7 linked regions of the Homo sapiens genome follow. The protein of the gene in region 5 interacts with the protein of the main gene of each other region in a pairwise test. Each region holds a gene or a part of one and is shown on either strand. Other genes may lie near its edges. The genes, in order: BNIP2, ACSL5, PEX13, FXYD6, PEX12, THSD7B and C5orf46.

What was found.
Region 1: the proteins of PEX12 (region 5) and BNIP2 interact in binary tests that used the Homo sapiens proteins (3 or more experiments, as listed by UniProt).
Region 2: the proteins of PEX12 (region 5) and ACSL5 interact in binary tests that used the Homo sapiens proteins (3 or more experiments, as listed by UniProt).
Region 3: the proteins of PEX12 (region 5) and PEX13 come close enough for resonance energy transfer, tested with the Homo sapiens proteins (one large-scale study listed by BioGRID).
Region 4: the proteins of PEX12 (region 5) and FXYD6 interact in binary tests that used the Homo sapiens proteins (3 or more experiments, as listed by UniProt).
Region 6: the proteins of PEX12 (region 5) and THSD7B interact in binary tests that used the Homo sapiens proteins (3 or more experiments, as listed by UniProt).
Region 7: the proteins of PEX12 (region 5) and C5orf46 interact in binary tests that used the Homo sapiens proteins (3 or more experiments, as listed by UniProt).

What each region holds. Positions count from the first base shown.
Region 1 is NC_000015.10:59,665,321-59,668,820, reverse strand, and holds part of BNIP2 (BCL2/adenovirus E1B 19 kDa protein-interacting protein 2), read left to right. Parts: intron 1-682; coding exon of another isoform or gene 683-718; intron 719-3,500.
Region 2 is NC_000010.11:112,419,116-112,422,615, forward strand, and holds part of ACSL5 (long-chain-fatty-acid--CoA ligase 5), read left to right. Parts: intron 1-2,477; coding exon 2,478-2,550; intron 2,551-2,831; coding exon 2,832-2,920; intron 2,921-3,209; coding exon 3,210-3,326; intron 3,327-3,500. UniProt on the Homo sapiens protein: Catalyzes the conversion of long-chain fatty acids to their active form acyl-CoAs for both synthesis of cellular lipids, and degradation via beta-oxidation.
Region 3 is NC_000002.12:61,027,720-61,031,219, forward strand, and holds part of PEX13 (peroxisome biogenesis factor 13), read left to right. Parts: intron 1-3,500. UniProt on the Homo sapiens protein: Component of the PEX13-PEX14 docking complex, a translocon channel that specifically mediates the import of peroxisomal cargo proteins bound to PEX5 receptor.
Region 4 is NC_000011.10:117,866,659-117,870,158, forward strand, and holds part of FXYD6 (FXYD domain-containing ion transport regulator 6 precursor), read right to left. Parts: intron 1-3,500. UniProt on the Homo sapiens protein: Associates with and regulates the activity of the sodium/potassium-transporting ATPase (NKA) which catalyzes the hydrolysis of ATP coupled with the exchange of Na(+) and K(+) ions across the plasma membrane.
Region 5 is NC_000017.11:35,575,772-35,579,886, forward strand, and holds the start of PEX12 (peroxisome assembly protein 12), read right to left. Parts: upstream 2,801-4,115; 5' UTR 2,251-2,800; coding exon 2,125-2,250; intron 1,821-2,124; coding exon 1,267-1,820; intron 411-1,266; coding exon 11-410; 3' UTR 1-10. UniProt on the Homo sapiens protein: Component of a retrotranslocation channel required for peroxisome organization by mediating export of the PEX5 receptor from peroxisomes to the cytosol, thereby promoting PEX5 recycling.
Region 6 is NC_000002.12:137,409,045-137,412,544, forward strand, and holds part of THSD7B (thrombospondin type-1 domain-containing protein 7B precursor), read left to right. Parts: intron 1-2,564; coding exon 2,565-2,828; intron 2,829-3,500.
Region 7 is NC_000005.10:147,903,739-147,907,985, forward strand, and holds the start of C5orf46 (uncharacterized protein C5orf46 precursor), read right to left. Parts: upstream 2,801-4,247; 5' UTR 2,764-2,800; coding exon 2,694-2,763; intron 1-2,693.

The sequences.
Region 1 (3,500 bases), on a different chromosome or scaffold from region 5:
ATACTCATTCTTTATGTATTATATTTTATAACTGTGCGCGCGCGCGCGTGTGTGTGTGTGTGTAACAAAGAAAAAGAGGAAGAAGCCATTTTCCCACACCATCCCCCTAAGTTAGCATTTTCTTCAGGCTGTCAGTTGAAGAACTAGGATAAATTATTTCCGGTTGTGATTCATGTTATACTTTTATAGACTACTTATAATCTAAGAGATGATTTCTCTAATTGATCAGTACTAAAGAGCATTCTCCAAACTTGAACATAGTGCTCAACAAATTTGAGTAAACTGATCATCAATATTATTATTGAATAATCATATTGCTAAATAAATAAAAATATTTAAATCATCATAACCTTAATGTTTTCCAGTGACTGAAATTCTGTTCTGATTATCAGATTCACATTCTTCCATGTAACTTCTTGGACTTGGTAGAAGGCTGTTAACATAAATAACTGAGTATTACAATGCATGTGGAAAAGTTTCTTTGTTCTGCTCACCTGAGGTTTTAGTCTATTTAATGTATGAAAGTCAGATTTATTAAGTAAATTTTTACTTTCTACATCATGTAGTAAATATTTTTGGTTTTGCTGGAAAATTTAAATGAGTTTATTTTTAGTAGCTTTTTTCAAGTTTTTATTCATTTTCATAACATGTATATTTACTGAAATAACTCTTCCCTACAAAGGTATGAAGAAGAAAAGTTTAAAAAGAAACAAAAAAGGTATATGCACACCTTGACTGGGTTGCATCTAGACTAGTCCATTTGCATTGCAGACTAACTCTTCCTTATTGGTTGGTTAGCTTGTAGACAAAGATAATAGCATTTGCAAATATAAATGTACCCCAACTTCCAAATACAGGGTGAACCCAGAGTTCCTAAGGCTGAATATGACTTGGATTCACCATGTTTTATTGCCATATATGATGCCAATTAGCAATTAAAAACCACAGACCCTTCTCTCTCCTTCTTAGTCTAAGTACTAATGGTGAAACCAGAGAAATTACTAAAAATGGTATTTGGAACACCAAATAATTTTAAGACTTTATCTGTTTCACCATTTTCTTTAAATCGCTAACTTGTGCTTTTGAAATATTTTTGCAGACTTTTTAAAAGTTCTCAATTTATTTCCCTGGGGTTGATTATTATATTTGCAATGCATATATACTTTGGCTAACCAACATTGGTTTCCTTTTATGCTTAAATTAAATGGCTTGCTAACCAGTCAAATTCTACATGTGATAAAATACCTAAAATCTCAGTGTCCCATTTAACAGTTAAACACTTCACTTTCTATTTTAAATTTAATTTTGAACACTTCTGCTTTGAGCATAACAAACTATTATCTATTGATACCTTGACATAGATGATGAAAGGCAAGGGTATAAAATACTTAGAATTTTGTATAATAATTTAGAAAAACGTAGAATTTAGATCTAGTTTGTTAGATCTTTAAAATATTGGCAATTAAATTAGCAAAACATAGTTTAATACAATCTTAAGAGTTACGGTGAGAGATTTATATGTAATTATCTTGACCATTCTAAGGAGCCAACTGTAACTAACTGGAACATTCTTAACTTTGAACACATTTTGTTTCTGTTGATGAGTGAGAATTTAGTAGACTTTGTGATAGAATCAGTTTTACACTTCTATATGACACTTCACAGTTTAACCAACACTTTAACATAGAAATGTAGACAGTGATTTTAGATCATGCTGATTTCACATTCCTTTCTAGGCATTGCTGTGCATTCGACAGACAAGTGGCTGAAATTAAAAATATGATTTGTAATTGTAGAATATTTTGAAGCCAGCTGCTTCATAGATTTCACAGTGAATTGCCTTTGTTGATAAAATATGCTGTATTAAGCCTTTTTAAAAAAAGTTTTTAATACTGTTAAGTAATTTAGACATCAGAAAAAATATGGAATTTGTACTTTTTATTTAAATATATTGTTTGAAACCTGTCACTATTTTATCTTGATTTTTTTTTTACTTGTGTTTAACCATAAATAGAATGATTACATGTATCTTTCAAAAACGTTCTGTTTTTTGTAGTTTCTTTAGTCTTAAAAAATAATAAATTTTTGTCAATCTGAAAATGATAAAATTTAATTTTTAAATTAAATTTAGGTAGAGAGGCATGTTTTGTTTTGAGACAGAGTTTCACTCTTGTCACCCAGGCAGGAGTGCAATGGCCCAGTCTCAGCTAACTGCAATCTCTGCCTCCCGGGTTCAAGCGATTCTGCTGCCTCAGCCCCCCAAGTAGCTGGGATTACAGGCACCCACCACCATGCCTGGCTAATTTTTGCATTTTTAGTAGAGACTGGGTTTCACCATGTTGGCCAGGATGGTCTCGAACTCCTGATCTCAAGTGATCCACCCACCTCGGCCTCCCAAAGTGCTGGGATTACAGGCGTCAGCTACCACGCCCAGCCTAAACCAAACTTTACAGAAGCTAGGTGCAAGGGAGCTTATTTAAGGTGACAACTGCATGATATGATAAGTAGTGGTGCTAAGAAGAGTATGAAGCTATGAGTCCCTATGGCAGGTTTTTGGGGAGCAGGGGAAGAAGGGGCAAAACCATTTTCTTGAGGGGCTTGTGGGGAAGAGGGTTGAAGAAATGTTGACAACAGGGAGATCCAGTGTCCCCAGTGACAGAAAAAGGATAGCAGTTTAAATGTTTAAAATGTTTCTTTCAAACAACTGGATGCAAGTGTGGCCATGCAGATACAGATTGTTAAAATGTTTCAGGGGAGTTTAAAAATAATTATGAAATTAGTTGGTAAGGATATTTCAGATGTTAAGAGGATTTGATATATTTTGCATGCCTTATCAGAAATACATTCCAAATTTTTTATAACAATATTTTAAATATTTTAAAATGTTACTTTGGCTTTACCACAGACCAGGGCTTTTAGGTCTGTTTCACTAATATTCAGGTGGGCATAGTAATGGGTGATGAGAATAAAAACATATGAAAAATATTTTTCTTTATCTAATACCGGATTGTTTTAAAGGTCCCTTCATCAGTTATTCAGACCACTACAAATGTAATAGTAATAGACTGTTAGCTTTGAAGGGTTGTCTGTAATTATTATGTGGTAATTATGTAATCCTTCTAATGCCCACATGCGTAAATTTTGATATGACTGATGTCCAACCCACCACTAAATAAATAAGCTTTTTGATGGGTTTTTGTTTTGTTTTTTTGAGACAGGGTCTTGCTCTGTCACCCAGGCTGGAGTGCAGTGGTGCAGTCTCGGTTCACTGTCGCCTCCGTCTCCAGGGCTCAAGCAATCCTTCCACCTCAGCCTTCTGAGTAGCTGGGACTACAAGTGCACACTACCACACCTGGCTAATTTTTGTATTTTTTGTAGAGACGGAGTTTTGCCATGTTGCCCAGGCTGGTCTCAAACTCCTGGTCAAGCAGTCCGCCCGCCTCGGCCTTCCAAAGTGCTGGGATCATAGGTGTAAGCCACTGTGTCTAGCCAATAATTAA
Region 2 (3,500 bases), on a different chromosome or scaffold from region 5:
GTGTGTGTGTGTGTGTAATAATGTATATTATCAAACTTTCTTCCAGAAAGATCTTTTTTGCACATTTCTGCAAGTATACAAGGCCTTATTTGCCCATGCTCTTGCCAGTGACAGACTTTATCAGTCATTCAGATATTAGCTAATCAGATAAATGAAAAATCTTATTACAGTTTTGTTTCTTTTATTTACACCAAACATCTTTCTATTGCTTATTGACATGTATATTTTATCCATGAATTATTCTATTACTTCCTTATAGAAAAACAGGCAAAAGATAATTTGGTCCTTTTTTATATTTCTAAGAGTTCTTCACAGAGTAATACAGGTTGAGTATCTCCCTATTTGAAATGCTTGGGACTAAAAGTGTTTTGAATTTTGCATTTTTTTCCAATTTTGTAATGTTTGCATTATAAAACAGTTGAGCATTCTGAATCTGAAAATCCAAAATCTGAAATGCTCCAAAAAGCATTTCCTTGGAACATCATGTTGGCACTCAAAAAGTTTTGGATTTTGGAACATTTTGGATTTCAAACATTTGGATTAGAATAGTCAACCTGTAATATTAACTTTTGTCATGTTGGAAACATTTTTCCTGGTCTCATCATTTTTGCCCTGTGTATTGCCATATAAAAATTTCCAATGTTTTTATAGTCAAACTAAATAATCTTTTCTATTTGTAGGTTTTAAACTGCTTAGACAGGACTTCCTAACCCCCAATATTTCATAAGACTGTTTCACCCTTATTTTCTGGCAAACTTACCATTTTCCATTTTTTCCTTTTAAGTCTCAGTTCCACCTGAAATTTGTCCAAGTGCTTGGCCATGCATATTGTCTCAATTTTCACCCAGATGGATAATTAGTTCATTCATTCAACCAACCATGCAGAGCATGAACAAAACAGGCATAGACTTTTCCTCATGAGTCCCCTATCTGTATAACCACAATCAAAAGAGACTCCAGAATGATGCCAAGGCCTGAGGTCCTTCAAATTAGCATCCTCTTAGCCATTTTTAATACTGTCCTTTCCTTAAGCCCCTAAAACCAATAGATCAGCAGGTCCTGTTGCTAACTCCTTCCCGAAATGTCTTCTCTAAGCCTTCCTCTCTCTCCCAACTCTGCCTATCACAGGCCACACCCCCCATTGCAGCAGCCCTTGAACTTGTTTCCTGCCCCCAGCCTCTCTCCAGTCAAGATTATCTTCTATACCAAGGATTGGCAAATTGTAGCACTGGCTAAAACTAGTCTGCAGCTGGTTTTTATTTTAAAAATATTATTCAAATACAGCTATGTCCATCCATTTATATATGGACTGTGGCTGCTTTTGTGCTATTTTGGCAGAGTCAAGTTTTGAGTCAGATACCAGATGGCTCACAAAGTGGAAAATATTTACTATCTTGGCCTGTACAGATAAAGTTTGCCCACCCTTGTTTTATATCATAGTGGGGGCTATTTCCCTTAAAAAATACTACTCCCCTTCTTCAGTTCCTTCAGTGATGCTCCATTGCTCAGGGTCAAGTTCAATTGCTATTGGGTTGCACACCACTTAGTGAATAACTTACATGTTCCCACCTACTTGAAATGCTGCATTTTCTTTTCTTTTTTTTCTTTTTTTTTTCTTTTGAGATGTAGTCTCGCTCACTGTGTCACCCAGGCTGGAGTGCAATGGCACAATCTCGGCTTACTGCAACCTCCGCCTCCTGGGTTCAAGCAATTCTCCTGCCTTAGCCTCCTGAGTGGCTGGAATTACAGGCATGTGCCACCAGGCCCGGCTAATTTTTGTATTTTTAGTAGAGATGGGGTTTCACCATGTTGGTCAGGCTGGTCTCGAACTCATGACCTCAGGTGATCCTCCCGCCTTGGCTTCCCAAAGTGCTGGGATTACAAGCATGAGCCACCATGCCTGGCCAAAATGCTGCATTTTCATATAAAGTTCTATGCTTTGGTCTATTTCCAGACCCTTTTGGTTTCTGAATGGCCAGAAGGCTTGGTAGTAAATACTTTGCAGCTTGGGTATGAGTTCAAGGTTTTTTGTTTGTTCGTTTGTTTGTTTGTTTGTTTTTTGAGACGGAGTCTCGCTCTGTCACCCAGGCTGGAGTACAATGGCGTGATTTCAGCTCACTGCAACCTCTGCCTCCCAGGTTCAAGAGATTCTCCCACCTCAGCCTCTCAAGTAGCTGGGATTACAGACACCTGCCATCATGCCCAGCTAATTTTTTTTGTGTTTTTGTAGAGATGGGGTTTCACCATGTTGGCCAGGCTGGTCTCAAACTCCTGATCTCAGGTGATCCTCCCGCCTCGGCCTCCCAAAGTGCTGGGATTACAGGCATGAGCCACCGCCCCCTCCAAGTTCAAGGTTTTAAGACACTAAGTGGTCTCGAACCCTTAGAGACCTTGCTTTCCTCGTGTCTTGACCATAGCACGTGGCCAGCTCACACTTTATCTTGAGTAAGTCTAAAAGCTCTTCTTTGGTTTCCCAGGTGTATGAAGCTTATGGTCAAACAGAATGCACAGGTGGCTGTACATTTACATTACCTGGGGACTGGACATCAGGTAAGTCCTCCATCTGCTGGGCAGGAGGTGCCATGGTTGGGAGAAAGGTTCTAACTGAACTAGGACTTTGGAGTTTAGATAACTTCAGTTCTCTGGACTAATGTGGCAAATGCAAAATTCAAGTTTTGGGTCCAGGCCTGCCTATCTTGGCTAGTCTGCATTGGTGCCAGGTGATTTTTCAGTCTTCCTCTTCTAGAGTCAATTCATAAATATCTTAGAAATGTGCCTGGAATTATCACCATGCAAGAGTTTCTCAGCTAATTCAGCACGGTATGTTCTAGGTCACGTTGGGGTGCCCCTGGCTTGCAATTACGTGAAGCTGGAAGATGTGGCTGACATGAACTACTTTACAGTGAATAATGAAGGAGAGGTGGGTAGGTCATGCCCTGTGGTCAGACAGTCATGGTGGGGAGGTTTATATCAGAAAGAGCAAATAATTGTAAGCAAACTTGGATTTGGCCCCTTTGAGATTGTTAGCAAAGAATTAAGCATTCTGAACTTCACTTTCCTATCCCCTATAGTGGAGACTTAGATCTGGTGCTCTTCACAGTGTAGTGGAAGCCATCAAATGATTTAAGGGGAGCAGGTGTTTCATAAACTGCCCACGCTGGGAGGAGCAGCCTTTGCTATTGTCACCGCCTTGTATGTCTGCTGTGCAGGTCTGCATCAAGGGTACAAACGTGTTCAAAGGATACCTGAAGGACCCTGAGAAGACACAGGAAGCCCTGGACAGTGATGGCTGGCTTCACACAGGAGACATTGGTCGCTGGCTCCCGGTAGGTATATCATCAGAACTCCTGGAAGTCTATGCTAATGGACTGAGAAGAACAATCTGCTTATAGCAAGAGGTGCAGAAATGCAAGTAGGTTAATCAGCTGAGGCAGCTGGAGGGGATTAGGTTTGTACCCTACCTGGCTTATGACTTCCTCATACTATCCAGAGAAGAACAT
Region 3 (3,500 bases), on a different chromosome or scaffold from region 5:
TTCCATAAGTCTGTCTTGTGTTAAATCTAGATAATGTCTGTTTGTTTGTCTCTCTGTTTTCTCTATTATTGCTTATACTTGGGAGCAGAACTGTTTCATTAAAGCCTGAATGCACTGCACTATCTGGCCGTTCACTGGCTCCTTTTAAGTTTTGTTCCATTTTTAAATATCAGATCCAATAAAAGAAAAAAAAATAGAGTTCTAGTAGCTTGTTTATAATATTACGATACAAGTCTAAATTAAAACTTTAGCCTGGATTAGAAAATTACCATTTTGCAGTTCCACATCTAATATTTGTTTCAGGCAAGGATGATGAATCGATGCTAAACTATCAAATGAACAGTTGCTGAGGAATAGAATATTTGTGGTACAAAACTGTCATCCCATAGATTATATACTAATTACAAAGGGAAAGATACATTTTAATGGAAAGATCTAATAGTCACCTCCTTAACCAACTAATCAAATTTAGCTTCACAAATGCGCCTCCTAAAGTAATACTGTGTGAAGTAAACAACATCACTTATGAATTATTCTTGCCAAAAAATATTGAACCTGATTGCAATCAAACCGTTAAATGCAATCTTAATTTAATAGGAGGCGAAATAAGAGTACAAGTTAAACAACACTTGGGGGAAACACAAATCTGGGGGTAGGACATTTCTTTCTTTTCTTTTTTTTTTTTTTTGAAACAGAGTCTCACTGTGTCACCCAGACTGGAGGGCAGTGGCATGATCTCAGCTCACTGCAACAGCCGCCTCTGGGGTTCAAGCGATTCTCCCTCAGCCTCCCGAGTAGCTGGGACTACAGGCACCCACCACCACGTCCGGCTAATTTTTGTATTTTTAGTAGAGACGGGGTTTCACCATGTTGGCCAGGCTGGTCTCGAACTCCTAACCTGAGGGGACCCGCCTGCCTCAGCCTCCCAAAGTGCTGGGATTACAGGCATGAGCCACCATGCCTGGGCTGGGGGTAGGACATTTCTAGAAAAAAACTGGGTTGACTCTTTAGAAGGTCAGGGATATTTGAAAAAATGGGATTGTTCTCATTTAGAAAAGAAAGGAAACAAACCAACCAAATGCAGTGTGTGAGCCTTAATTGAATTTTTGTTCAAAAAAATTTTTAAAGATATTTTTGACTCATGTAGCACAATAATTTAAAAAGCAGTGATAAAAAGGCTAAGCCAAGTACAATGGCTCATGCCTGTAATCCCAGCACTTTGAGAGGTAGAAGTGGAAGGATTGCTTGAACCCAGGTATTTGAGACCAGCCTGGGCAACAAAGTGGGACCCTCATCTCTACCAAAAAGTTAGCCGGGAGTGGTGGTCTCACCTACATAGGAAGCTGAGGCAGAAGGATTACTTGAGCTGTGTTTGCGCTTCTGCACTCCAACCTCAATGACAGAGGGAGACCCTGTCTCCAAAAAAAAAAAAAAAAGAGGGCGAACTTAAAAGTGGGCAAAGTATCTGAATACATATTTTTCCAAATAAGATTGTAAAACGACCAATAAGCACATGAAAATATGCTCAACATCATTAGCCGTCAAGAAAATGCAAATTAAAACCACAGTGAAATACCACCTCACGCCCACTAGGATAGCTATAATGAAAAATATAAGAGCAGATGTGGCCAAGGATGTGGAGAAATTGGAAATCCTCATACATTGGCGAGAATGTAAAATGGTACAGTTGCTTTGGAACACAATCTGGCAGTTCCTCAAAAGGCTAAATATAGAGTTTCCATATAACCCAGCAAACATGTCCGTACAAAAACTTGTACATAAATGGTCATTGCAGCATTATTTGTAATAGCCAAGAAGTAAAAACAGCCCCAATATACATAAGCTGATGTGTGAATAAATATAATTTGGCAATAAAAATTAATGAAATACAGTTGGCCTTCCACATCTGATCAACCAACTGTGGATCAAAAATATTCGGAAAATAGGCCAGACGTGTTGGCTAACACCTGTTATCCTGACATTTTGGGAGGCTGAGGTGGGAGGATCACTTGAGGCCAGGAGTTGGAGGCTGCGGTGAGCTATGATCATGCCACAACACTCTAGCCTGGACAATAGAGTGAGACCCTGTCTCTTAAAAAAAAAAAGTATTCAGAAAAAAAAAAACTGCATCTGTACTGAACATGTACAGACTTTATTCCTTGTCATTATTTCCTAAACACTACAGTATAAGTAATTACATACATTTACAGTGTATTAGATACTATAAGCTAGAGATGATTTTAAGTATACAGGAGGATGTGCATAGGTTATATGCAAATGCTATACTATTTTATATTAAGGACTTGAGCATTCATGGATTTTGGTATCTGAAGGAGATTTTGAAACCACTCCCCCACAGATACCAAGGGCTGCCTGTGCTGATACATGCTATAAAATGGATAAACCCTGGAAACATTATGCTAAGTGAAAGAAGCCAGTCACAAAATACTACGTATTGTATGAGTCCATTTACCATAGATCCTCATTATTTGTGGATTCTGTATTTTCAAATTGGTCTGCTCACTAAAATTTATTTGTAATCTGAAAATCAATATTCCTGGCACTATCACAGTCATTTGAGGACAAACGTACATCAGGTAAAAATCTGAGTTGTCCCTCAGCTGACAACTGAGGGACAACTGAGAGACAAAAAAGCAACACTCTGGTTTCTTATTTCAGCTCTCATGCTGTAAACAGTTGTCTTTATCAAAGTCTGTTTAGTGCCAGGTTTTTTCACATTTTTTTATGGTGATTTTGCTGTCTAAAATGGCCCCCAAGCATAGTGCTGAAGTGATCTCTAGTGTTCCTAAGCACAGGAATGCTGTAGTGTGCCTTACAGAGAAAATACAGGTGTTAGATAAGCTTCATTCAGGCATGGGCTATTGTGCTGTTGGCCATGAGTTGTTAATGAGTTAACAATATACCTGGAATAAAGTGACTTTAAACAGAAACATATAAAATAAGTATATGTATTGATTGGTTGATGAAAGAAGCAGTGATTTGGTATCTGCTGGTTCAGAGTTCACAGCAACTTTACAGGATATAACTATCTTAAATAACAAGAATTAACTATATATGAAATGTCCAGAATAGACAAACCGAGGGACAGAAGGTAGATTCATGGTTGCCAAAGATGGGTGGAGGGGTGGGCAGGAAATGGGGAATAGCTGCTAATGAATATGGGGTTTCTTTTTTGAGGTGATGAAAATCTTCTGAATTAGACATGGTGATAGTTACACACCTCTGTGAGTGTACTAAAACCTATTAAATTTTAAACTTTAAAGTGATGCCTGGGCACAGTGGCTCACACCTGTAATCCCAGCACTTTAGGAAACCAAGGCAGATGGATCGTTTGAGCCCAGGAGTTTGAGACCAGCCTGGGAAACATGGTGAAACCCCATCTCTACAAAAAATATAAAAAATTAGCCAGGTGTGGTGGCATGCACCTGTAGTCCCAACTGCTCAGGAGGCTGAGGTGGGAGGATCACTTGAGCCTGGGA
Region 4 (3,500 bases), on a different chromosome or scaffold from region 5:
ACAGGCACTCCTGTGTCCCTCTCAGCCTCTGTCCATCTCACAGCTGCTGAGTGCCCCGCTGCACTTTGCCTAGCAGAATACCAGTGCATTTATGCTGAGTACTGGATGGAGTCCCAGACCAGTTGTAGGCTATCCTGTCCACTGGAGCTCAGCTCAGGGTGGGTGCCAACAGAACTACTAGCCGGCAGCCTTTCACCGTGGGCTGCAGAGCTGCAGATCACCTTTTTTTCTGGTATGGCTCAGAATTAGATGAGGGTGTAGAATCGAAATAAAGGCCACCCCTACTCAAAAATGTATCTGCCTCCACAACAATTCTTCCCAAGGAGAGACGTTTAAATGTCACGGCATCACTACAAGAGAAATACTCCCAATCCTAACAGTCATTTATATCTTGGCCTGAGTTATTTAATCAGATTGCTTTCCACAGCAGAGAAATTTGCCTGCATTTAGGTGGAGAAATTGGGGGAGAAAGAGCGTACTTTTGGAACAAGGTGTAATTTTGGAAACAATGGCACCCTTATCCTTCCAGTAACCAAGTTAACAAATATTTATTGATGGCCTAATGCTTTCCAGCACTTCACTCATCACTGAGGACACTGCAGTGAGCAAGACAGACACAATCCCTGCCTCCCTGCCTGACGGAGGTTACGGCCTCACCAAGTTTCCGGGGCTTCCTCTCTCCTTCCCCATCTCCACACTGCATCTGTGGCAAAGTCCTAGCCATGCTCGCACTTGCAGTATCTCTCTAATTGGAACTTCCTTTCCGTCACTCCTCTGGGTAACTTACCTAATAGTGCAGTAGCTGGACCCATCTTTAACCTCCTCCTTCCCCTCTGTGCTGGACACTGATTACTGCAGGACTAACCTTTCTAAAGTGTATTCTGAATACCTCCCTCCCAAACTCAAAGGCATTCGGTGGTGCCTCTACGTCCTATTTAGTTTTTTAAAATCCAAACTTCTTTCTGGCATATGAAAATCTCTAAGTGTACCTCTCTTCTACCCCTCCAGTATCTTCTCATTACTTTCAGCTAAGATGGTCTACGTTCCATCTTCTGCCACATGTGTCTCTAACTGCGTGCCTTTGTATATTCTGTTCCTTCTACTTACAATGCCCTTCCCTTCTTTGTTTATTCCAGTTCTCAACCCTGGTTGTACCTTAGGATCACATGAAGAGCTTCAGAAAAAAAAAAGAAAGAAAGAAAGAAAAGAAAAAAGATGCCTGGAAATCAACTCAGCCACATTCAGCTCTAAACCCGGGCAGTGTAGCCAAGGGCAGTGTAGCCAAGGTATCGGTAATTTTGAGAATCTCCCCCACTCATTCTGATGTGCAGCCAAGGTTAATAAATGCTATCTTTGTCCAGCTGCCACTCCACGTAGACCCCTTTCTCCAGACTCCAAGAGCGCCTGTCGCCTGTCGTTGGCACTAATTTGGCGCATAGCACATTCTGTTTCATGCTCGCTTCATTAAGATTCTCCTATCGGAAAAGTCTCTGTGCTACCCCATGATCTGTCCTCACCTGGGATGGTGAGGACGGCCGAAAGTGCTGGCTGATGGTTTGGTATGTTTGTCTCGAGGAGCGGAGAGAACACAGCTCCAATCACCAGGCCTTGAAACTGTGCTGCGTGGGGGGCATGAAAGGGATGGAAAACCCAGTCCCATCAACGTCAACAGCAATGAATCATCCTGATTGTATCGTCTTGGTGTGATGTGATGAAAATGGCACTTTCCCTCTGTGATCTTCCTCCCTAAAACCCATCACTCCAGTCTAATCATGAGGAGAACATCGAACAAATCCCAACAGGGCCACATCCTACAATACACCTGACCAGTGACCCTCAGAACTGTCAAAGTCCTGGGAAGCCTGAGAAAAGGTCACCACCCAGAGGCACCAAAAGAGGCACGACTCAATGGAGTGTGGTATCCTGGATGGGATCCTAGAACAGAAAAAGGACATAAGGTACAAACGAACGACATTTTAATAAAGTGTCAATGTTAGTCAATATTATTGTACCAATATTTGTTCATTAATTGTAACAAATGTACCACCCTAATGTAAGATCGTAATAATAGCAGAAACTGCATGCCAGGGGAGAAAATTGGAACTCATACAATCTGCCCAAGTTTTCTGTAAATCTAACTGTTCTAAAAAGATAGTCTATTCGTAGAAAAATAATAAAAATTCAAAAATTCAGTTAAAAGCAATCCTCAACCCCATCCCAGCACTCCGGCTCCTGCTCACCTTTCCGGCATTTGATGAATCTGTAACAGGAGCTGGGCTTCTCTGGTTCAGAGCCTCAGAGCAAACAAACAACCATCAAGGGCTTTTAAAGCTGCCTTTTAAAACAAGTGCTTTGGGTCGACCAGAGGCCACAGATCCATCAGTGGAAAATGCAACCAGTTCCCTCAATTTGCATTTTAAATGCCCATCAAATAAACAATTAAGCATCAATTATTGTTAAATCACCTAACTTGAAATGATTGCCCGCCCCGCCCAGCCAGCAATGTTCCAGAGAGGAGTCGAGGAGGAGACTGGACTCAGAGACTGGCAAGGGAAAGGACAGAGCAGAGGGTGGTGAAATTCCAGCAGTCCATGGCTCAAGGAGGCTGCAGACACTGCTGAATTTCCCAAGCTGCCAGGAAGGCAGCTGGACAGTCTAGGAGCAGGACAGGGCACCTCCGCCCAGCGCATCACTGTGGCTGACACCTCCCAGGGTGGCCTTTCCCTCTCCTGTCAGGCGCCTTCAGTAGCCCAACGGCTCGAATGCTGCCCCTCCAACCCTCATTCATGGAAGAGGGGCACTCCCACTGCGAGGGTGCTGGAGGCTGAGTCGTCAGGTACCCTGGACTCAACCGGCCCAGACCCAACCCAGCCCGGCTGCACAGGGTGGAGCGGGAGAGGCAAAACTCTCTTGTCATATAGCAGGGGACTTATTTTTAACCTGGAGGCACCTTTATCTTTAACATGAAAACATGAAGTTCTTTCTAGGGAAGAGAAACTTGGACAGAGGAAAAAGAAGAAGAAGAAGAAGAAGAGAGAGAGACAGAAAATAACTGACTGTGAAAAGAAATAAGGCCTCTTCCTTAGAAACAGAAACAGAATTCACAAATCACAAATCCAGGCCTGTTTTCTGGAAGTCTCCCTGGAAAGATCCCAAGCTGGACCATAAGCGGAGGCATGGTGGAGAGATCTTAGCCTCTGGTCTTTCAGTGCGTGCCGGCCTGGCTTTGTCCTCCAGCTGCATGCGGGTCACTGTCATTCCAATCACATCCCCTCATCCTTGGCCCTCTCTGCCCACATCAGATATTCTGAACTGGGGCAGCCCCATTCTCTGGGCCCCAGCCTGGTCCGTGGGGCCCCAGCCCCCTTCCCAGGTCTTGCTGTCACCTCACCATCACTGACAACCGTGACACTGTGGCATCCCAGCCATCACCCATGGACTTCTCACAACAGCCCTCAGAAGCAGAAACACAGAACAGTACTGCGAGGCCAACTCAGGCA
Region 5 (4,115 bases):
TGATTCCCTTTCAGTTCTCAGGGGAGTAGAGTTTAATCAGATGTTGTACTTCTGTTGGATAACCTGTGATGGGACAAGCTTGGTGACTCCTCACATAATGAAACACACAGCGGTAACAAAACACATAGCCAGAGGTGGCAAGAACAGTATCATTCACCCGGGTTTTACGACACAGTGGGCACACAGTCTTCATTTTGGGTAAGAGGGGAGAATCAGAGTTATAGTCTAGGTGTACAGGTGGTGGTGGAGTAGGCAGGGCAGTCAATGACTTGATGGTTTCTTGATTTTCAGATGAGTACCACCAGTCAAGGAACTGCAAGAAGAATACACCCACAGAAAGGCCAGTAGACAGGGATAAGGCAACACCCCCAACAGCTTTCTTCAGAGCTGAGTTTATCTTCTCACTAACACTGTTGGGAGAAAAGAACAAGGAGGCAAAGAGAGAAACTTTATTTAGGTATCATTACAAAGTGACTAATATAAATGCAATTCTTACATTTTTCATCAGAATCACTGGGGGACTGAATGGTTGGTAGACTGGTACTATCTCCTTAAGGATCTATTCTAAGTGATTCTAACTTACAATATTTTAGGAGCATAGGAGCTAAGCTTTGTTTTTAGTAACATGATTAGGGTTTGGTTTTGTGTTTTGAAAGATAAATCAGAGAATTTGATTATATAGACCTCCCTTTTTTTAGTGGAAGATAGTGATCCAGAAAAAAAAAAAAAAACCCAATTCACTTAATAAAAAACTTAGCAGTATTGAGGAATGTATATATTTGAACTTGTAGGAGAACACAAATATGAACTAGAAGGAGCACAGCATCATGATTAAGAGCACAGTCTTAGGCTGGGTGCAGTGGCTCACAGAGCACAGTCTTTAGAATTGTATTGGTTTGGTTTGAATCCCAGCTCTGCCACCTTCTATGTACCTACGTGACTTTGGCAAGGTACTTAACTGCTTGGGTTTAGTTTCCTCAACTGTGAGCTAATACATTTACTTCATTGGGTTGTGTTGAGGATTGAGATAATGTACGTAAAGCAAGCACCTAGCACAGGGCCTGGGACATAGCAAGTATGCACTAAAGTATACCTAGAATGATGAAGGTTACCAGGATGACAGTCCTTGTTTTATGGACACAAGGAATAGCTTTTCTATGACTCTATGAAATGCCACAAAGTTAACAGGGAGGTGAATTTTACAAAACTGGGATACGATTTTCGAATTTACTAACTAAAGATCTTTTGGAAATGTTAAGGCCTTACCTCCTGGCTGGTTGCTGCATCATGCTGGCCTTAGCTGGTTTGTGCTCCAGAGCTTGTATATCCTGAACTGTCAGTCGACCTAGCTGAACTCCAGCCAGCCTCAGCAGTGGTGAGTGATGCTGAGCTTTTCCTAGGATGTATCGAAGTTGTTGTACAAGAAACCATCCTTCCCAGGCCATGTTCACAAATGGGTAGGCTGCCAGGAAAGCTCTGTAAAATCGTTTCCAGCGGGAAGAAGGGGGATGAATAGAATATTCATCCTCTTCTCTCAGGCTAGAAACCAGCTTCTCCAGCTTCACTTTCAGATAGGGAAGAAGAACCAGGAACATAATAGATTTCCAAAGCTGCTGCTTTGGGAGACCAGCACTAGCCAATCTCTGAGACTTGTGAGTGTCCCCCATTACAATTCTCTTTAAGCCGTAAAAGTTTTCAGAAAATGAGGCACTGGTTCTAGACAGATAATGTTGCTGGAGCAGAAGATCTAGCAGAGTAAAGATTTCATCAAACCACCTCCACAAGAAGCCATAGTGGGTGGGATTTGATTCTGCAAGAACCTAAAGCAAAATAAAGCAATAAGTGAAATTCATTCCATTACACAAGTTCTACACCTATTTACATTCCCCCTTTTCCTCTAAAGTCTACACAATTTGTTTTAAATAAGTCACTGTTGGACCCTGAAATGCTGGGTATTCAGTACAGGTCTCTACACATAACAGAGACTCAGTAACTCTTAAGTCATGGGATACAAGTTATTTGCAAATTGGCTATTTCAAACGCTAGGCTACCAAATAAGCACAAATTATTCGTTTGTTTTTTACCCAGTTGTCCCTAAAACCTTTCCAAGAATTAATACCTTACCTTGACCACATGCTGAAGAGCGGGTCTCACTGCTGTCATTAAACTGTCCTGTGCTACCACCTCAAAGATGGATGGCTGGTCATCGGCCACAGAAGCAGCTGTGAAGTGAGCCCCGTGCTCAGCCATAGTTTCCTGCGTGTACTGGCTTTCACTTTTCCCACAAACTCTCTCGTGAGCATGAACTTTTTCGGGAGGAAGAGTATCAGATGGGTGCTCAGTCTTAAAGGTAAACTTTCTGCATGATATCTGAAACTCGAAACTCAATCTTATGGGCAAAAATGAACTGGGAAAAAAAGACCTGGAGGCCGAGGGTAGTCTCAAGAAGGTTAAGAACAAAGTTAACTCGGACGTGGGTGGAAGTAGTATGTGGCGAGGGGGTAACTTGTCAAATGCTGCACGTCAGGGCAGAGCGTGACTGTGGGGGACAGGTATGGGGGAAGGAACGCAATCCTCTGGAGCTGCGAACCAGAAACGCCCCCTCCTCCCCAATCGTGAGAGCTCAAAAGCCAGCCGACTCTGAGGATTCAGTCGTGCCACTGTGAGCCCGGGACACAAGGGCTGACTCCAGCTGTTGGCTTTGAGTATCCCCGCCCGCGCCCGTCCTTGCTCGCTGACCCCAGGCGAGGCGCAAACAACCCACGACGCCACGTTTGAAGGGAGGTCTCCGCTTTATGACAGAAGCCGCACCCGGAAATGAAACCACCAGGACCTCTGGGATGCCTGGCGGAAGAGAGGCGCTCTAGTTCCGAATGCGGTCCGGAAACCAGAACTAGAGAACTCTATGACCCACCTGAGCTTCCGCTCCCGCCCCGCTGAAACAGAAGAGGGCCCTTGTGGGCTGGTTTTGGCTAGTTTGGTTTACTTTTCGTAGCTGGGTCTGCATGGTAGCCTCGCTGGAAAGCTACAGCTCTGAACCTCTCTCTGCGAGGTCTTTTTGACAAGCTGTTTGGGGCACCGCGCAGACGTCTGGCGCCGGGAGCCAGAGCTCGGGCCCGTTGCTGAGCCCTGTGTTCCTGCAGGCGATGAAGCTAGGGGCGGTGGGAGGAAGGGAATCTGGAGGTGGAAAGGACTTTGCTGTACGCGTGCGGCAGGGATGGTGGTTAATTTATATGTCTTAGCCTTCCAGAAATGATTTAAAGCGACATAGCAGGAGATAGGAGCCTTAGATTTATTGCCGCCAATTATAAGGAAAGATGATTGGATTGAGAAAGGTTCATGCTTGTTCCTCAGTACTTGAGACGGTTAATTTTCATCCAAGCTGGTAGTTTAACGTCTTCCAGGTTTTGGCTATATTCAAGCATAACTGCATGCACTTGCTATACTGGATGAAAATGGTCTCCATCCTTGAACACAGTTGTATATGTCACCACCAGCGATATGAATACAGTACTAACGCAGAGGGAGCTTTATGAATTGTAACTAGCATGCACTGGGGACACTTGACAGAAAGTTTCCTTTCATGCCGTTTTTATACCAAAATGAATGTGATTTACCTTAAGGTTTGTAAAGTGCTTTTATGTTATGTACAGCTTTGTCTCGCTGAAGTTGGCTGACACAGCCTTATTGAATTTGGATGAGAGTTCCACCTCTCCTCCCTTCCTCTGGGAAGTGCCACCTCTGGGCTAAATAGCTGGGAATAGAAGGTATTGTTTACTGCCCTAGAGGCCCTTATGTTATAAAAATAATTGGTTTGCATAATGAGAACCCTCAAAAACAAGGTTTGGATTTAGTTATTCCAATAGGAGAGAAAACCTTACAAATTGTCCTTAATTATAGTTATAAAAAGTGTTTTTTACTCTACCAAAAGACATTATATTGATATATGATTTTTACCTTACAGAGTTTTAAGACTAGACATAGTTTATCCATATGAAGCACCTGGATACATATTAGGTGCTTGTTTAATAGTAACTGTTATGTACAAGCTTTTCTTAAGTGAATAGCAAAAATACAAAGTTGAGAGGTAGCATCAACTAAATCAAGCAGGAAAT
Region 6 (3,500 bases), on a different chromosome or scaffold from region 5:
AGGCAGATACAAATGGGCACAAATCATATAGGTCCTTGATGACCCTAGGAGAGGAGTCTGGATTTCATTCTGTACTATGGTAAGCCACTTCAGAGTTTTCAGTAGACCAGTGATTTGATCAGATTTGTACTTTGAAAGCTGGCTCTGACTGCAATGTGGTGGACAGATTGAAGGTAGTGAGGTATGATGGCATCAAGATCTTGGAGAAATCTGCTGTAATTTCAGCTGGAGATTTGCAGGTGGGGCTAAATATGGGTGACACCCATTGGAATGGAAACAAATGGACTGATGCAATGAATCTTTATGCATTTGAAGTGATATACCTTTGTCATTAATCAGATATAGGGGGTTCAACAGAATAATTCAGGGCATTCCAACTTTTAACTTGGTGATATTGGTAGAATTGAGAAACGCAGGAGAAAGAAACATTGTGATGTAAAGAGAATGGGTGTGATTGGTTCTTTAGATGTAGATTTTTCAGTCTATGGATTGGAAGCTTGAGCAAGAAATCTTGGATGAAGACAGTCATTTAAAATTGAAGAAATATGTATGATAATTAACACTCTTCAAATGGGTGAAGTTGTAGGATCAGAAGAGAGATGAACCTAAGATGTTGCCTTGGGGAACCCCATCAGTTTAAGGGAGGTAGAGAAGAAGAATAGTTCACCAAGTAAAAATAAATAATATATGGCAAGAGAGAGGTGGGGGCATGGGGTGAGGGTGAGGAACAAAAAGATATGTTACGATGGAACTTGGAAAGAATATTTCGAGAATGAAAGTGTAGTCAATACTCTGAACTATCATTGAGTGATTAGACCTTAAAGATAAGGAATAAAAGATATTCCAGGGCTTTGGCTTTGTTTCTTGTTTTTGTTGTTGTTTGTTTGTTGCTTGATAACAGTGGTTTCCAGAAATAAGTAGACAGAATCCAGGGTTAAGTGGGTTTAGAAGAGAAATGAAACTGAAGAGATGAAGACTGAGAGATTCAACAATATTTTATGGAAGTTTGAAAAAAGGGAGGTCTTGAACCTGCTAAATGCTAATAGGAAGGAGCCCCTCACTAATTATTGATATATCTCTCAGCCAGTAAATTTTCATGGCTGTGGTGGAAGCTGTGCTTTTCAAACTTATTCTAGTGTCCTAATGGTAGAGGCAAGTGAATATCTTCTATCAGAAGTGTAGCTGAATCTACTACCAGCTCAACTTCAGGTCCTGCAGAAATTCTTTTTTTTTTTCTTTTTTGAGACAGCATCTTGCTCTGTCGCCCAGACTAGAGTGCAGTGATGCGATCTTAGCTCACTGCAACCTCCACCTCCTCAGTTCAAGTGATTCTCCTACCTCTGCCTCCTGAGTAGCTGGGATTACAGGCACGTGCCACCACACCTGACTAATTTTTGTATTTTTAGCAGAGATGGGGTTTCACTATGTTGGCCAGTCTGGTCTCGAACTCCTGATCTCAAGTAATCCTCCCCCAGTGGCCTCCCAAAGTGCTGGGATTACAGATGTGAGCCACCATGCCCAGCTTAGAAATTCTTATTTATTGCAAACATAAGCATCATGGCAGACCATAGAGCCAATCATCCCATCAGCAACTCTAGAATTGTATGTAATGCAAACCATGTGGCAATGAGAAAGTAGCCCATGCATCAGCTTGTATCAGGCATTTCAGAAAAGCCATAAACACAAAAAATAGACCAATAAAACTGCCTATATATTTTATAACCAGCCATGACTCTAGCTAATGACTCATTAATGAGAAAACAAAAGGTGGAATTATTAGATCTAGGAAAATTTTTAGTAATCCAGAGGAATTGTGTTAACAGCAAAGTTGAATCAAGTTACAGGCTGATTTAGAATCCACTAAACATGATTACCAAGTGTTTACAGCTGTGAAAAATGACACTGCATTGTCTTACTCAGAGATAGGACCAAAACTAACAGGTCCATCAAAGTGAATTGGTAAGGTAAAGTCATATTTCAGAATACTTAAGTTAGAAGAATCTCTCAAAATGAAAGAGCTTTTTCTCTGATTAAATTATCCAGTATGACTTGATCATTTATTTCAATTTATTGTTTGTATAAATGTTTGGGAGCTGCCTGATGGCAGAGACCAAAATGAGTTTAACTTTGTCCATCACATTGCAAGAGACCTCTACTAAGAAGAGAGGGAGTTAACCACTTAGATGCTTTCATTGGTTCCCTGGCGATCGTTAGTCAAGGAGAATGGGGACAGGGTTATCAGTATGTTTTTTCCAGCAAACTTACAGAGAAAATGTTAAATAAATTAACTGGAATTCTCTAGCTGTAGCAAACATCTTCTAAATATTTTATGCCACTCTCAAACATTAAACCATTTTCTACTTTTTTCAAATTAACTTGAATTTCACAGTTGTTCTGGGAGTTGTTTCCGTTGTCTCAGGATTTACTTTCATGACAAAAGAGTGAAGAAAACAAAGGCTTTATTTTATTTAATATTCTAAAAGATTACAAATACAAAAGTGTGAGTGACTTTTAACAAAACAGCAGATAAGCATTTAATATCTTAATGTCTCTTGTTGGAACAGGGAAAAGCAGAAAGAAGGAGAAATGCCAGGATTCTGACCTTTACCCTCTAGTGGAGACAGAACTATGTCCTTGTGATGAATTTATATCCCAACCTTATGGAAACTGGTCAGATTGCATTCTTCCAGAAGGCAGAAGGGAGCCTCACCGAGGACTGCGGGTACAAGCAGACAGCAAAGAATGTGGAGAAGGCCTGCGCTTTCGAGCAGTAGCCTGTTCTGATAAAAATGGAAGACCTGTTGACCCCTCCTTCTGCAGCAGCTCTGGTAAGGAGATGGATGGAGAGTAACAGATGAGAACACTCACACACAGCTCGGGAGGTTTGTCTCAGGTCTAGAATTAATAGCTCTGCTCTATAATAATTGTTTTAATTTTCCTTTGTCAATAACACATTGTCTCTCATAAAATATGGACAGATGAAATGCATACATCTGTATCTCAATGATTATCTGGAATGTGATGGTGCTGGATCCCTGACTCACTTCATTCTCTAATTCACCTTTGTTTATTAGCCGCCTGTTTACTGGTGGTCAGCACTGCTGCTCCACTTCACTGAGAAAGCCAAAGCCAAATACAAACAAATATGTTCCATGCTGTTTTTTCATGCTCTGACCATATACATAGAAGGCATCAGAACTTGAGTGTCTTCTAATGTAGTTGAGAAAAAAAAAAATCAATGAAAAAGTTGATTTTAAAAGTTTTACCGTATAAAGGCCAGGCGCGGTGGCTCACGCCTGTAATCCCAGCACTTTGAGAGGCCGAGGCAGGCGGATCACCTGAGGTCAGGAGTTTAAGACCAGCCTGACCAACATGGAGAAACCCTGTCTCTACTGAAAATACAAAATTAGCCGGGCGTGGTGGCGCATGCCTGTAATCCCAGCTACTCGGGAGGCTGCGGCAGAATTGCTTGAACCCGGGGGGCAGAGGTTGCAGTGAGC
Region 7 (4,247 bases), on a different chromosome or scaffold from region 5:
GGCCTACTTTTTTAATGTTTTATTTTTGAAACAGGGCTTCACTCTCTCGTCCAGGCTGAAGGGCAGTGAAGTGATTACAGCTCACTGCAGGCTCAACGTCCTGGGCTCAAGACATCCTCCCACCTCAGCCTCCTGAGTAGCAGGGACGACAGGCATATGCCACCACAGCTGGCTAATTCTTGTATTTTGTGTAGAGACGGGGTTTCGCCATATTGCCCAGGCTGGTCTCGAACTCCTGGGCTTGAGTGATCTGCCCACGTCGGCCTCCTGAAGTGCTGGGGTCACAGGTGTGAGCCATCCTGCCTGGCCTGAGCCTACTATTATGTGCATAGTTATGCTAAGAGTCAAGGTAAAAAAAAAAAAAGACAACTGTAGATATGACCTTCACATAAAGTGCTGGGCAACCCAGGTACTCAGAAGGATTGGTTTGTTTTTATTGTGGGAAGGAGGCGGAAGCGGAACTCATGTGTAAGGTGCCTATCGTGCAGGTACTCCATCAGTGCTTTCAGCACATGCCTTAATCGTCATTTAGCTCAGCAGTGGTATCACAGTTACAGCAGAGAAGACAGATGCTCAGGAAAATTAAATGACTCACCTGAAATCACTCATCTAGAAAGTGGCTGACCCAGGGTTTGAACCTAATTTTTTTTAACTCCACAAAGCACATTATTCACATTGTATAATACAACCTCCAAACAATTGTTCTGTAAAGACATTTGCCAAATGCAAAGCAGTAATTTCTTGCATGAAAGATGAGATTTTTTCTCCTGTGTTTCTATCTGGCTACTTGCATAATAAATTCTATTGACTTGTTATTTTAATATGACACTAAAACCTGGCTTTTCAAGATGCAAGAAGCCTGGGATTGGAGTGGGCGGAAATCAAAATCTTGGCCTTAGCTTGTGAACCCCATATATATTGAGAGGTATTAAAGTGTGATGGATTGCATGCTCTGGAGTTTTATAGATCTGTCTGATTCCTGCCTTTAACAAAAAATTAGCCATGTAAACTTGCACACAGTGCTTAACTTTGCATCTCTCAGTTTCCTCATATGTTGTCAGGATTGAAAGATATTTTATATATTATATATCTATATATATATACACACACATACATATATCTATATTATATATACATACATATATCATATATATACCACTTATCGTAGTACCAATCCCAAGATAAACTTACCTTATATAAATAAATAATAAATGAAAGAATGAATAAATAAATGTTATCTGTTTTATTGTTACTATTAATAATAATAGCAGCAAAATGATTTATAATTCACTTTCTCCTCTAGTGCTTTAGAAGATAATATAAATTTTAAAAATGCTATTAAAATATTAAACGATTGATATCCTAGAAACAATCTTCAAAGTCAATAGTTTAATATTTTCTTTTTTCAAGTATTATATGGGATAGCCTTTATTTACAGTAACTACTTTGTTGAGTTTCTTAGTGAATGTGAATATAATGTTCTTAATAAACAGTATTGCTGATATTTGTAGAGTTTTAATAGTTTACAAAGTAATTAAAAAGCATATTCATTTGACCTGGTGAAGTTGATAGTTATCCCGTTTTACAGATAAAGAAACTGAGGTTCAAAGCAGTGAACGATTTAACCAGTTTCAGAGTTTATAAGAGACAGGGTGGTGCCTGGTCTTGGTATCAAATCTCTCCTTTCACTTCACTGTAGTGATTTCTTTAGGAGTAGAATGGACTGAATAATATCCGTGGCCATGTCTAGAGTAATTCTGTTGTAATGTCTGTCTGTGTGTTCTTCAGCCAAGTTACATTCAAAGGATTCTGTCACTAAATGTTTGCACTCCCTCTGTTTTCTGGTCTATCATTCTGAATGGAGCTCACAGACTTTTGCAGACAAACAGTAAATTAATTAATGAGAAGGCAGCATACAGCATGAGCTTCTATGTGCTTGGAAAAGGTGGGAAAGAAATAGTTGCTCGATAATAGTAGAAAGAATCTAGGAACCTAGGTTTCACTCCCAGATGCCACTTTCACCTGTATGTATGCTCAAGTAACTTGCCCTCTGCAACCTGTTTATTAACCTGCAAAAAGGAAAATGATAAAACTGTACATGTTTACATCATTGGATTACTATGAGAACCAAATGAGATTATACATGACAACAATAGCAGGTAGTATTTATTGCATGCTTACTATCAACCAGGTACCCTTCCAATTTGTTTCATTCCTTTTATTTAATTTTCATGATAACTTTACGAGAAAGTTAAATGTCCCCATTTATATGTGAGGCCTAGAGAGATTGAATAGCATTCCTAAAGTCACATTTCTGGTTAGTGGTAGAGCCAGGTACAGGAGTTTTATTCCAGAGTACATATTCTTCACCAATGAACATTATTAGGAATAATTATCAAAAAATAAATGCCAGTCAGCTCCCATGGAATTTATACTAGAATAGTGTCATTATATCATAAGAGCACATAAAAAAATTTCAAACTTCATACATCCACTGAAAATAGAGGCTAGGTTTTTATTAAAATTCTACTTTCTTTGTGTTAGAAGATACACCTCTTGTCTCCCAGGCCAGTGCTCTTTCTGGAGTGCCCAAAGACCCCTTCTTTCTTTTATGTTCTGAATCAGTGCCATCAGCTTTCTCTAGTCACTGCTAACTACTGAACAATTCATGGGCTGTGATCAGAAGCACTTACCTGCATAGCAGGTCAGGAATAAGACAAGCAGTCCCAGGACAACTGTCAGGCGAAGTACTGAGACAGCCATTCTGGTAGCACGGGGTATTCGTGCAGATAAATTGTTCAGATACATGTGAAACAATGCTCCATTTATAGGGCATAGATAGGTGACATCATCTGCTTTGGAATTTAGATTGTTGCACAAGATGTCTGCACAGCTTGCTTTTGGATCTGTACTAATGAGACATACCCTATCATTCAAACCAAACATTTTACATATAGGGAAAGAAAAACCCTCTTGATTTTTAAAATTTGTATCTATAAAGGGTTCTGGAGTGAATCTCTTGAGGCTAGTTTCAAGGCCAGCATTGATAATTAAAGGGATATCAGGTAGAATTGCTCGTCAGTGCCAAGCAGCAGGCAACAAATCAGATTGGCAAGGCAAGCCTACACCCTCCCTTTACACTCTATGCCTTCCCTCGTGCTCTGGGACAATCCCTTGTTCCCACATGGGCATGCCCTTTCACACCCCATGCGTCTGCTCTTGCTCTTCCTTCTTCCTCAGATACCCTCCTCCTTGTCTCCCTTCGGATCACTCCTACGTATTCCTCAGTTCAAATGGTCCTTCTTTGTGATACCTTCATGATAACCACTCCACCCTTCTCCAGGCAGTTTGTTACTTCATCATCTGCCCTATAGCACACTTGACCCCATTGTATAAGAACTAAGTGTTGGCTGGGCGCGGTGGCTCACACCTATAATCCAAGCACTTTGGGAGGCTGAGGTGGGCGAATCACGAAGTCAGGAGTTCAAGACCATCCTGGCCAACATGGTGAAACCCCGTCTCTACTAAAAATACAAAAAATTAGCTGGTCGTAGTGGCAGATACCTGTAATCCCAACTACTTGGGAGGCTGAGGCAGGAGAATCGCTTGAACCCTGGGAGGCGGAGATTGCAGTGAGCGGAGATCACACCACTGCACTCCAGCCTGGGTGACAGAGTGAGACTCTGTCTCAAAACAAACAGAAAACGACAACATAAACTGTCTTATTTATTTTACTTTTATTTTTCTCTTTTTTTTCCATCAACTTTTATTTGAAGTTCCAGGCTACACATGTAGCCAGCAGGATGTGCAGGTTTGTTACATAGGGAAACATGTGCCATGATGATGATTTGCTGCACAGATCAACCTGTCACCTAGGTTTCTTTCTTTCTTTTTTTTTTTTTTTTTTTTTGAGACTGAGTCTCGCTCTGTTGCCAGGCTGGAGTGCAGTGGCGCGATCTCAGTTCACTGCAACCTCCGACTCCCTGGTTCAAGTGATTCTCCTGCCTCAGCCTCCCTAGTAGCTGGGACTACAGGCATGTGCCACCATGCCCAGCTAAGTTTTGTATTTTTAGTAGAGACAGGGTTTCACTATGTTGGCCAGGATCATCTCAATCTCCTGACCTCGTGATCTGCCCGCCTCAGCCTTCCCAAGTGTTGGGATTACAGGCGTGAGCTACCGTGCCTGGCTGGCACCTAGGTATTAAGCCCAGCATCCATTAGCTATTCTTCCTGATGCTCTCTTTCCC